Homo sapiens: one gene and its partners. The protein of the gene in region 1 interacts with the protein of each later gene in a biochemical or structural test. Each region holds a gene or a part of one and is shown in the gene's direction. Other genes may lie near its edges.

Region 1 (3,750 bases):
TGAAAACGTTGTAATAGCTTTGCCCCAGACTTAACACCGGTTGGGCAGGAGGAGGGTAATTTTTATTTAGCCGTTTCTCCGATCATGTGGGGAATACCATTAGCTGTTGATAGCGGGCCATGTATCCGAGGAAAGCCTGAGCTACAAGGCAAAGGCATCCCATCTGGAACAAAATCAGAAAGCTATTGGCAAAGGTAATCAATCAGGCCATAAATAGCCATTTACCCGCTTCCTTTTCGGGGCTGGAGGTGGGCCGGGAGCCCTCCAAGGGTGAGCTGGGCAACTTGTAGAGCAAGGAATATGCCCTCCGCTGCCGGCGCCCCGGCCGCTTTTGTCTGGGCTCCCAGCCGGGCTTCCGAGGCTTTGTACCATGGATTTGGGAGTGACAATGGGCATTTCCCTCAGATTCAAGGCTGCTCAACCTCACCTCTGTAGGGGGAAAAAAATCAGAAGGGAGTGTCCCAAGGACCTAGCCATTCGGCCGAATTTTTTAGACATTTTGGGAGTCTCCTCCGAGGCCTTTAAGTGCGAACCGCGCGAAGCGGCCCTGCCCGGGGAGACTCGCTGAGGCAGGGCTGAGGCGGCGGGCGGGAGCAAGCTGCTCTAGCATTTGGGTTCTGCCCTGTGGCGTGTTCTCTTCCAGGGCCTTTCCAGCATCATCGGAGAAGACGAAGCACCCTGGCCGCCACTGTCCGTGCTGCGCCAACTCGCCCGGCCGCCCGCCCTTCCGAGGGCAGGCAGAAGCCCCTCTGTGTCCTCCACCGCCGCGCCCCGGCTCGCCCCTCGGGCCGCGGCGTGTGCCCAGCCTCACGTCGGGGTGTGTGTGGCCGCGCGGGCGTGTGTGAGTGTGGCAGGGGGAGGGGGCCCTCCGATCTGCTCCATCCGTCCGTTTTATTAGGGACACATTAATCTATAATCAAATACACCTCATAAAATTTTTATTGAAAGGCATAATATCATTACAGAGGTCTTCCACCTGTTTTAAACAACACGACAAGCTGTGAGCAAGCGTGTGTGTGGGGATGTGTGGGGAGGGGTGGGTGTGAGTAGGGAGAGAGGCGAGGGGAGAACAGCTCCCCTCGGGCGCTAGGGGCCGCCCCGAGGGCCCGCCTGCCTCGGGCGACACCGGCCTGGCGCCCCCGCGGCCGCTCCGTGTGCCCTGGACTCGCCGCCCGCGGCTCGGAAGCTGGAGAGTCAGCGACGGGGCCCGACTGCGGGACCGAGGGCTGCAAGAAGAAGCGAACAAATAGTCCCCAGCGCCTCCTCTGGATGCGGTCGCGTCTGTGGTCCTGGCAGCCGCTGGGCGGGCCAGGCCAGGTCGGGCCGGGCCGAGCCGGGCACATGGACCTGGGCCTGCGGGCTCTAATTGCGGCGCTTATGTTGATGATTTTTTTTTTAATCACAGCAGCCCCCAGTTTAGCGGACTGATTTACTCCCGGTATTGGTAAATATGATCACGTGGGCCGCGCGACCAATGGTGGAGGCTGCAGCCTGCGAACTAGTCGGTGGCTCGGGCGCCGGCGGGGAGCTGCTCGGCGGCGGACAGTGTAATGTTGGGTGGGAGTGCGGGACGCCTCAAAATGTCTTCCAGTGGCACCCTCAGCAACTACTACGTGGACTCGCTTATAGGCCATGAGGGCGACGAGGTGTTCGCGGCGCGCTTCGGGCCGCCGGGGCCAGGCGCGCAGGGCCGGCCTGCAGGTGTGGCTGATGGCCCGGCCGCCACCGCCGCCGAGTTCGCCTCGTGTAGTTTTGCCCCCAGATCGGCCGTGTTCTCTGCCTCGTGGTCCGCGGTGCCCTCCCAGCCCCCGGCAGCGGCGGCGATGAGCGGCCTCTACCACCCGTACGTTCCCCCGCCGCCCCTGGCCGCCTCTGCCTCCGAGCCCGGCCGCTACGTGCGCTCCTGGATGGAGCCGCTGCCCGGCTTCCCGGGCGGTGCGGGCGGTGGCGGTGGTGGTGGAGGCGGCGGTCCGGGCCGCGGTCCCAGCCCTGGCCCCAGCGGCCCAGCCAACGGGCGCCACTACGGGATTAAGCCTGAAACCCGAGCGGCCCCGGCCCCCGCCACGGCCGCCTCCACCACCTCCTCCTCCTCCACTTCCTTATCCTCCTCCTCCAAACGGACTGAGTGCTCCGTGGCCCGGGAGTCCCAGGGGAGCAGCGGCCCCGAGTTCTCGTGCAACTCGTTCCTGCAGGAGAAGGCGGCAGCGGCGACGGGGGGAACCGGGCCTGGGGCAGGGATCGGGGCCGCGACTGGGACGGGCGGCTCGTCGGAGCCCTCAGCTTGCAGCGACCACCCGATCCCAGGCTGTTCGCTGAAGGAGGAGGAGAAGCAGCATTCGCAGCCGCAGCAGCAGCAACTTGACCCAAGTAAGTGCAAAAGAAATTGCCCCCTGATTTATTGCTGAAACCTGTAAGGCTCGAATGTGCAAAACTGATAGTTTTACTAACCTATAAAAACGTCTAGACGCCTACCCAAGCCTAGGCGAACAACATGCATCCATAAAAAGAGCTTCCCATAACCACCTACCCTGGGCGCTCAGTTAGTACGGTAAACAGAGCGCGAGCATTAAGGCTTTTTATGATAATTCCCCACAAGTTGTGAAAAGCGACCATCCTTGGTGAAATTAATTTAACGACCTCTCTTCCCCACCCTGTGGTCTCTCCCTGCCTCCCCTCCTCTCCTCTCTCCCCGTCTCCAAACCTCCCTCTTTGTAGACAACCCCGCCGCGAACTGGATCCACGCTCGCTCCACCCGGAAAAAGCGCTGTCCCTACACCAAATACCAGACGCTTGAGCTGGAGAAAGAATTCCTCTTCAACATGTACCTCACCCGGGACCGGCGCTACGAGGTGGCCAGGATTCTCAACCTAACAGAGAGACAGGTCAAAATCTGGTTTCAGAACCGTAGGATGAAAATGAAAAAGATGAGCAAGGAGAAATGCCCCAAAGGAGACTGACCCGGCGCGGTGCTGGCGGGAGCGCTCAAGGGCAGCGGATTTGTTGTTGTTGCTGTTTTCCTTTGTGGGTGTTTGGTGCTTGATTTCCAGAAACTCTCCAGCGACTTGGACTTCTTCTTCTTTTTTTTTTTCTTTTTAGATAGAAGTGACTGTGTGGTTGGTCTCTGAGGTATTTGGGGGACTCTGTATTTGCTCGTTTACGTGTTGGAAAAACCAAGTGGCTTTGGGGTTTCGCCCTATCCCACTCCCTCTCTTTCCTGCTCCATTGGTTCCTTAAGAAATGCTATATTTTGTGAGTGCAAGCTGGCTTGGGGAGCCCTCTCTTGTGTAAATGTCCCCCATGTTTCTGAAAAGTGCTGTAGTTTAGTCCCCTCACCCCCAGCACTGCCCAAACAGGGGCCAAGTGCGCCCCAATTCCAAGAATGAAGGCAGAGCGACAACAGTGCGGACACCCCGGCTGCTAGCCCACGGTGAAGCCCGGCGGGGTTGCCCACCAGTTGCGAAAGCCCCCTTTCCTCAGGGAGCACGCGGGACCTCGGTGGAGATCTCCAGTGAGGCTTAGAGGAGCCCAGGGCCTCGGGCGGGTTGGGGTTTGTCCTCAGTGCATTGGACGCGCTGCTCTCTCCCCTGAAGGCTGGGCTCGCGTGGGCGGCCGCGGGTGGTGGCCCTCCCGGTTCCTGCCCGAGGACCAGTTGTAAATGTTACTGCTTCCTACTAATAAATGCTGACCTGATCAAATGGAGCCCAGACGCTGGCCCTAAACATTGTGTGCCTGCTTTCTCTGCCTCTCTGC
Region 2 (3,650 bases), about 110 Mb from region 1:
CTTAAATATTATTTGAAAGGGCAAATGGCCCACGCTGAAAGGTTTGACAGTTTGACATATAGTGCATGGTTTTGATAGCTCGGAAACTGAAAAGTGTGGCCAAGATTCTCCCCCTGCTCGTTAGAAACCTGGTGTTTTTTTAAATAGTGTCTTGTTGCTGTGCAGAGTTCCTCTGCTCCTTGAAATCTGACAGGCAATGAGTCTGCTCCAGTGATCTTAAATCCTTTTAGACTAATTTGTGAGAGAGTAGCAAAGTACTGTAGCTAGCACCTTTGAGTCCAGCATCCAAGAGGCACAGAACCAGGTATTGCCAATTAAGGAGCCATTCCGATAATCGTATCAAAGCAGATTGCTTTAGAGTCTTATAATGCCCGAGCCTGTGCCTAGAGAGAGAGGAACCCAGAGTTTCACTTCAATGAGGGGGAAAAAAGAGACTGGAGTGGCCCGGTCTCATCAGAGCCCAGGAAGTTGCAGGGAGAGGATTTCTGCATTAGAATGTTGCATATGTGCGGCCTGTGTGTGCGCAGCCCCGGCCGCTGCCTCTGCATAGCCAAAGGCCATTTTCAGGAGCCTCTGGCCCCTCAGTCACTGGCCTGCTAGTTAATTGCCACACGGACTTCATGACACATGGGCAGATAATATGACATTTTCAGTTTCTGTCACTAGCAAACGCCACAACGTTGCTTGCACTAGTTGCTAAGAAGCTGTCAGAAACCATTAGCGGTTGGCTAAAGTCGCCCTATGGCATTTCCTCATAGCATCAGCAAAACGAGCATAAATCACCCACTGGAGCCTACTGCTATCCTAATGAGGCTGTAAGCTTGTTTATGGACTAGCATCATTTTTATGATTATTTCCACCTTTTCAGTTTGCCTTCATTTGGCGGCAGGAGAAGTCAGCTCCAGGAATGAAGTCACTGCTGACATTTTACAAATGTGGTTCAGAGCTGCTGCCTGCTGCCGTGTGGTCGGCCGGCGGTTCTCCAAGTTTGTTTAGTGATCTCAAAAGTAAAAAAGGAAAGAAATTCTCGAGAGACCACATTGAGGTGACTATATCAAATTGCGGAGTGAATGGAAATGCTAAAGGTACAATTGACCATTTAGACTTTCCTCTGAGGTTGAGACATTTCCAGATCAATTTTCAATTTTAGAAAGTGGAAGAGGTTAAACAATTTATTAAAATCTATGAAAGTGTTTGCTTTTAGAATAGTCTGTTTTATTATGCTCTTCTCCTTCCCCATCTTCTCCATTTCCCTAACTTGTGTCGGAAAGGAGCAGGGTTTATTGTTTTAGGCTTTTCTGAACATGCACCAGTATTTACACTGGATTGAAAGCATTTGCTTCCAATGAAAATCTTGTCTTAGATTACAACCCAGCAGTGTAATTTCCCTCCCAGATGGGAGTAAAGTAGCTGTATTTGCCTAAAAACAGTAGGAAGAACAAACTGTGCATTAAGCCAAGGCTGTTTTTGGCTTGAGCTAATGATGTAATAGAAACCTTTTATTCAGGAGAGGTCACTGCCAGGGACTGAAGGGGGTGATCTGGCTCCTGCTTGAAAGGTTTCTCCATTGTATCTACATAAGTCTTCACTTAAAAAATTCTGTTCCTAATGCTTCTGCTTTCATACAGCAGAAATAAACAGGAAAGGTTCTGGTGAGTGTTACACATGGAATGCAGAAAGCCTTCCTCTCCTAATGGAGTATATAATTCAGGTGCCCTCAAGGCACGCTTTCAGGAATTCTTTTGCCTGAGGTAATGGGAAGCTAAGGTTGCTTTAAGGCCTTGATTATCTATTGATGCACAAAGCTGGAAAAAAGTCATCTCTGCTGGATTATAGTAGATATTTCCATAAATTATCAATGAATTCTCTTCTAGGCAGGCACTATGCATTGCTTGCTAAATTAATCTGAAGGGGTTTGAGGTGGATAAAAAGGCTATTTTTTTTAAAGGTGGAAAATAATCATGGGGAGGTGGTGAAAACAGTATTGTAAGGTTATAAGCTTTTCATTTTTAATCAATGATCAGGTCGTATGTGTCTTTTCCTTGGTTACCTTTTGCATATTGAAAGTGGATTAGCCCATTGAAAATTTAAATGCTGTTGAGTTGTTTTCTTTTCTCATGTTTCTTTAATGAATTGTTATTTTATATGGTAAACTGCTTCTCTGAATAAAAAGGCTGTTTAAATACTGGACTTTCAAAGAATTTATTAGGCAAATCCAAGGGGACTTCTCATAAAATACTTGGTTATGCAAATAAAGAGTTTGGTTGGGTGGAAGGAGTGCTGATTTACAGATGTAGGGGTCTGGAACAGCACAGACCCCAGTAGTTCCATGCCAGGGTACATGACCTTGGCCCAGTCAGAGAACATAGCATTTTCTTCACTGATACAACAATGGCTTTGGAGTGGTGGGTTTTCATGATCTTTTCCAAGTGAACACAAGATATGTTTCTGTTAAACTTTTAATGAAACAGATAGATTTTAAATATAATAAAATTACAGATTTTTAATGAATAAAAGTTTAGAATCAGAAAAGTTTTGCAAAAGTTTTGCATTTATAGCATATTCTGTAATAATAGTAGAAATGTTGGAATTAGTTTGTTCCTCACCCAACAAACTTTCTAAACTTCATCTCAGTACAAGTTAAGGCAATTGAAAAAAAAAAATTGAGGAATGCTTTTCTTTTCTTTTTTTCACAGGAGAGAGATGGGTCTGCTGAGGGAGCTGTTAAAAACAGTTGATTAGTTGCAACATACCTACTATAGATTAGACAGAAATAACTGAAATTGAACTAGAGAATTATTTTTTTATGTAGGACCTAATAACAGAAATGAGAAATACAGAAATTCATGAAGCCATGGAAATGAACCTGAGGCTATGTGCAGGAAACTTGTCTTACCAAAGTTTCAGGTTCTTTGGGTCGTGTAGTTGGCTCTCCAGTGGCTTATTTAACCCAGTGAATGTGCTCTTGGGTGTATTTTTTTTTTACCTCATTTCTAAGCCTGGCTGCTATAGCTCTTCCGTTTGGGCCCAGATCAACCTGTCGGTTTCTAAGAGAACGGTTGACCGAGCTAAGCTACTTTTTAGTGTAATGGGTCTTGTCCTTTGTTGTTTTCCTTTTTGACTTTGATGCCAAGGCAAAAAATACCTACTTTCCATTTGTACCTTGTAACTTATTTTGAACAGTTATATGGGTTAAATTTTTATTTTTTCTTATTAAACATGGCATTTTAAAAAAGAAATACTAACTTTTTAAATTTCATTATGTCACAGAGCCAAAATATTTTCTAGAATAAAGAGTGTAAATGTTATAATAAAAATCAATAGAAAAATAGGATCCAATATAGAGGAATATGTTAGCAGGTGATTTTTCAGTGTGAAAAATGCTAGGTTTACCTAGCATGAATTTTAGAAACTGCCTGAATTATTAGTGTAATACAATTCTAATTTACTATTAATTTAGCATTACCTTATTTGATTTACACAGTAATTGTTTTTTAATTAAGAAACTATGTCAGGGGTTTTTCCTTTACTAAACTTGATGCTTTCTCTCTATTACAAGAAAAATTATATTTTATTTGAAGCATTCCTATGTCAAACTGCTTATATGATGGATTACCTACATTTCCCCATCCTAGTTTAACTAGTCTTAA
Region 3 (3,650 bases), on another chromosome or scaffold:
CAAGAAAAACATAAATTTCAAAGTGAAACTAGATATGCAGTGATCCTGAAATACACCCAAAAGTGTCCTTCCTCCTCCAGTTTACCTCTTTTTCTGTAGACATCAGTGTTTACAATAAATAAAGCATTTTCTTATTGAATTTTTTTCTTTTTTGTTTAATATTGTGGTGGTACAGACTGATTTTTTTTTAAAAAAGAAAGGCTTGGCATTTCTGCTGTAGTATAAACTGTATAAGCCTTTCAGTGCTATCCTTATAAGATGTTTTAAGTTTGTTAATGCGTTTAAAAAATTAAGTATAGTTTTGCAACAGTTTTCTTTATCTGCCGTCGTTGGGAGTTAAATATCAATGATATGTAAGCTGTGGTACATGTGGGATCAACTCCCCCTTCCCTCACCAGATTCATAGTTTGTTTTGTAATTATATAAAAACATCGACATTTTAGTTCAAAATCATATCTGGAATGTGGGATATAAAACTTTCCTTCCCCGGGCAGGAATTATGGGGGTAAAACTTGAATTTAACTGTGTCTCCACTTGTGTCTGGCAGAGGTCTTGGTATGAAGGGAGCAGAGGTACCAGATCAAGCCAAGACACCTGCTGCGAACCACATGAAGGAAATAAATTAACAAATGAAAGTAAATTAGGTTTATTGTGTCTGCTGGCTTTAACATTTAAACCCTAGAATTCAAGGGGATAATCATTTGTATGCTACAGTTTTTCCTTATGTAGATAACACTAAGCTTTACACAAAATAGTCAGTGAAATCTGGTAGATTGAATTATATTGATCCTAAGGTCTATAGTGAAATACAGCTAAGAATCTCAGTCCACATTAAAGTTATGTAACTTCTAAAAATTTGCAATTAATCTATCACACGAAAGCACCTATATGGACATTTAAAGATCTGTGTATCTTGATGGCATCAAGCCAGCTTTCACATTGATAAACGCTAGGGGCATTTCTCCTGAAATGTTAGGTATATTTTAGTGTCATAACTGAAGATGTAAGCAAATTTAAAATGCTTGCTCTAAATTAAAAGGGTTCTAGCTTAAATGAGCAGCTCCTTTATAGGAAGATTTTTGTCACAGTGGTTTCGCTAAATTTCAGTTATATTAAACAAGAGAATCGCATTTTATGTAGTTGTCCTTTTGAAGCTCTTACTTCAGATCTTTTTACTGATGTTGCCAAATTATTATAGGATAAGACCAATTAGCTTACCTCTTCACCTCTCCCATAAAGCCTTTTTTTTCTTCTGCAATGTTTCTGAAGGATGAAATGTGAACTTTCTCATCTTCTCTTAAACTACTCTAGGTATCAAACTGGTTTGGAAATAAGCGAATCCGGTACAAGAAGAACATAGGTAAATTTCAAGAGGAAGCCAATATTTATGCTGCCAAAACAGCTGTCACTGCTACCAATGTGTCAGCCCATGGAAGCCAAGCTAACTCGCCCTCAACTCCCAACTCGGCTGGTTAGTTTTTTCTTTGATTGGGGGTGGGGGAAGGAATTGTTCTCCATTTTTATACTGGCTGTTCCTACATTGGGATTTTCTTTTAATTTGTTAGGCTTTTGATTGGTTAATTTCTGTATTTGATTGTATTTTTGGATGTTAATGTCACTTTGGGCTCTTTCTTTCATTTCCAAAGAGCAATCTGTTAGACTTTTTACAACGTGGGTTGTCTGGAGGTTTGCATTAATTTGTCTATTAAGTTAAGACCAAAGTAAATTGGTTAGCTTGAAGAGACCTCTAAATTCTCCTCTCAGGGATATCAATAAGTAAGTTAGACATAGTGCTTAGAGATAGTCTATTGGGATTCTGTCATTTGGCCTGTTTTATATAAAGCTTTTATCCTTGTCAGTTTTGCTGTTCCAACAACATAATGTCTGGGTCACTTATTAGCATGCATTCTATGCAGAAATATTTACTCTTCTAGCAAATATCTTATTAGAATGCTTTGGTATGCAAAGCCAGGCTATGAATATTTCTATATATTGTTTATAGTTGTTGTTCTTTATTGTTTTTTGTTGGTCTTCTTTATGATTATCGGTCATGAGCTATGTAATAGGCTTTGTTTCAGGAAATATGCATTATATCACTAATTTAAGAGTTTAGGTCAAAATACTATATTTTGGGGTGTGCCTTGTGTCATCAGTTCAGAATTTCTACATGTGAAAAAATGTAGTTAATAATGCAAAAAATATAACCTTTGTGTTTGTATGCTATGGAAGGCATGTGGTAATTTTTTTTTCCCTTTGGTAAAGGAAAGACAAGTATTTTCTCATTAAATAAGTTTGGTTTGACTTTGATTAGGGTGCACAGCTAAGAAAACTGATGATTCTAACTTAAAAGGTTACCAATTTAAATATGTTTGATCGTAATATGATTACAAACCTAATGTCTAACATTTTTTAGAGTATGTGGTATCTTTGACCACAAAGCTTGTTTGTCCACTAAAATAAGTTTTCTTACAGCGACTCGTTACTGGAGAAATGTAGGGTTCCACAGACTGATGTCTTCTGTGAGCTTCCAGATGCATAAATTTGTTATGATAAGGTCCTCCAAGTCACTGGGCTATACCCAGCACTTCTTTTGTGGCCTTCTTTTATCTAAATGGAATCATGCATGAAGAGTAGCCTGGGCTTTTTCAACATGGATATAATAAAACAATGTAGAATTCAATCCAGTTTTAATTTTCCCAGCACTGCAGGTTAGATTCCTATGAGGAGCATATTTACTTTTTTAGAAATATTTTGTTTTTTTCTTCCTCCATCATGGTGTGATTGACAAGGGATCAAAGCTAACAGGTTCAATAACCAGAGAGAGTTCCATCTTCTCCATCTGGTCAATTATTAAGAATTTCAGACCCAACAACACCAGTTGAACTGTGCTGCTAGGCAGACATTTTCACTTGTCTCTTTGGAAGAAGTACAATTCTGTCAACATTAGCAAAAATGCACTCAACACTCCTGCAAAGGTTATCATAATGCAAAACGATATCAAAATGACTTTTTCCTGTCCCTGGTATATCTGCATCGCAGATGGCTTAGCATGATTTATGACTAGTCCTTAGAAAAGCCCTGTGGACTTTCTTCATTACTAAATTTGTAACTATTTATTCTTTCCTAAAGCCCTTAAAAGAGAAAAATAAGCATTTTAACCCTCTATTCTGTGTTTAAGAAATATGGTTGCCTCTTATGGAATGTCAGACTATGATTACAGTTTTCTAAGGAATTTTTTTCTGGTGGCTTAAACATCATGTGACTATTCTGAGCACAAAGTAAATTATTATGGAAAATTTGAGCTAAGCCTTCCAATTGTGCGTAAGTTGTTGGAAATAATCTGCACAGGAACCCCTTTGTAGTGCTTTTTCTAAAGTAGAGGCAAAAGAAAATACTATTGTATGTGTGCAATAGCATGGAATTTTAAAAGATAAACATTTTAACAGGAAAAGTTATAAATGGGCTTTTCTGTATTTTCTTTTGCTCTTAACCAACCTAAATCATCCACACAGGTAAAGTAGAACTTTAAAATGTTCAAACTTTTCACATAAGGTGTTTATTATGTTATGTACTTGCTCTTCAATAATTTGGAAAGATAAATGATAATTGAAATAAATTTTAAATAAGAGGTTAATATGTGAAAATATATT

The links.
Region 2: the proteins of HOXD9 (region 1) and MEIS1 form a complex in vitro, tested with the Homo sapiens proteins (one study listed by BioGRID).
Region 3: the proteins of HOXD9 (region 1) and PBX1 form a complex in vitro, tested with the Homo sapiens proteins (one study listed by BioGRID).

What each region holds. Positions count from the first base shown.
Region 1 is NC_000002.12:176,121,219-176,124,968, forward strand, and holds HOXD9 (homeobox protein Hox-D9), read left to right. Parts: upstream 1-1,500; 5' UTR 1,501-1,550; coding exon 1,551-2,367; intron 2,368-2,715; coding exon 2,716-2,957; 3' UTR 2,958-3,719; downstream 3,720-3,750. UniProt on the Homo sapiens protein: Sequence-specific transcription factor which is part of a developmental regulatory system that provides cells with specific positional identities on the anterior-posterior axis.
Region 2 is NC_000002.12:66,508,039-66,511,688, forward strand, and holds part of MEIS1 (homeobox protein Meis1), read left to right. Parts: intron 1-3,650. UniProt on the Homo sapiens protein: Acts as a transcriptional regulator of PAX6. Acts as a transcriptional activator of PF4 in complex with PBX1 or PBX2. Required for hematopoiesis, megakaryocyte lineage development and vascular patterning.
Region 3 is NC_000001.11:164,810,679-164,814,328, forward strand, and holds part of PBX1 (pre-B-cell leukemia transcription factor 1), read left to right. Parts: intron 1-1,311; coding exon 1,312-1,471; intron 1,472-3,650. UniProt on the Homo sapiens protein: Transcription factor which binds the DNA sequence 5'-TGATTGAT-3' as part of a heterodimer with HOX proteins such as HOXA1, HOXA5, HOXB7 and HOXB8. Binds to the DNA sequence 5'-TGATTGAC-3' in complex with a nuclear factor which is not a class I HOX protein.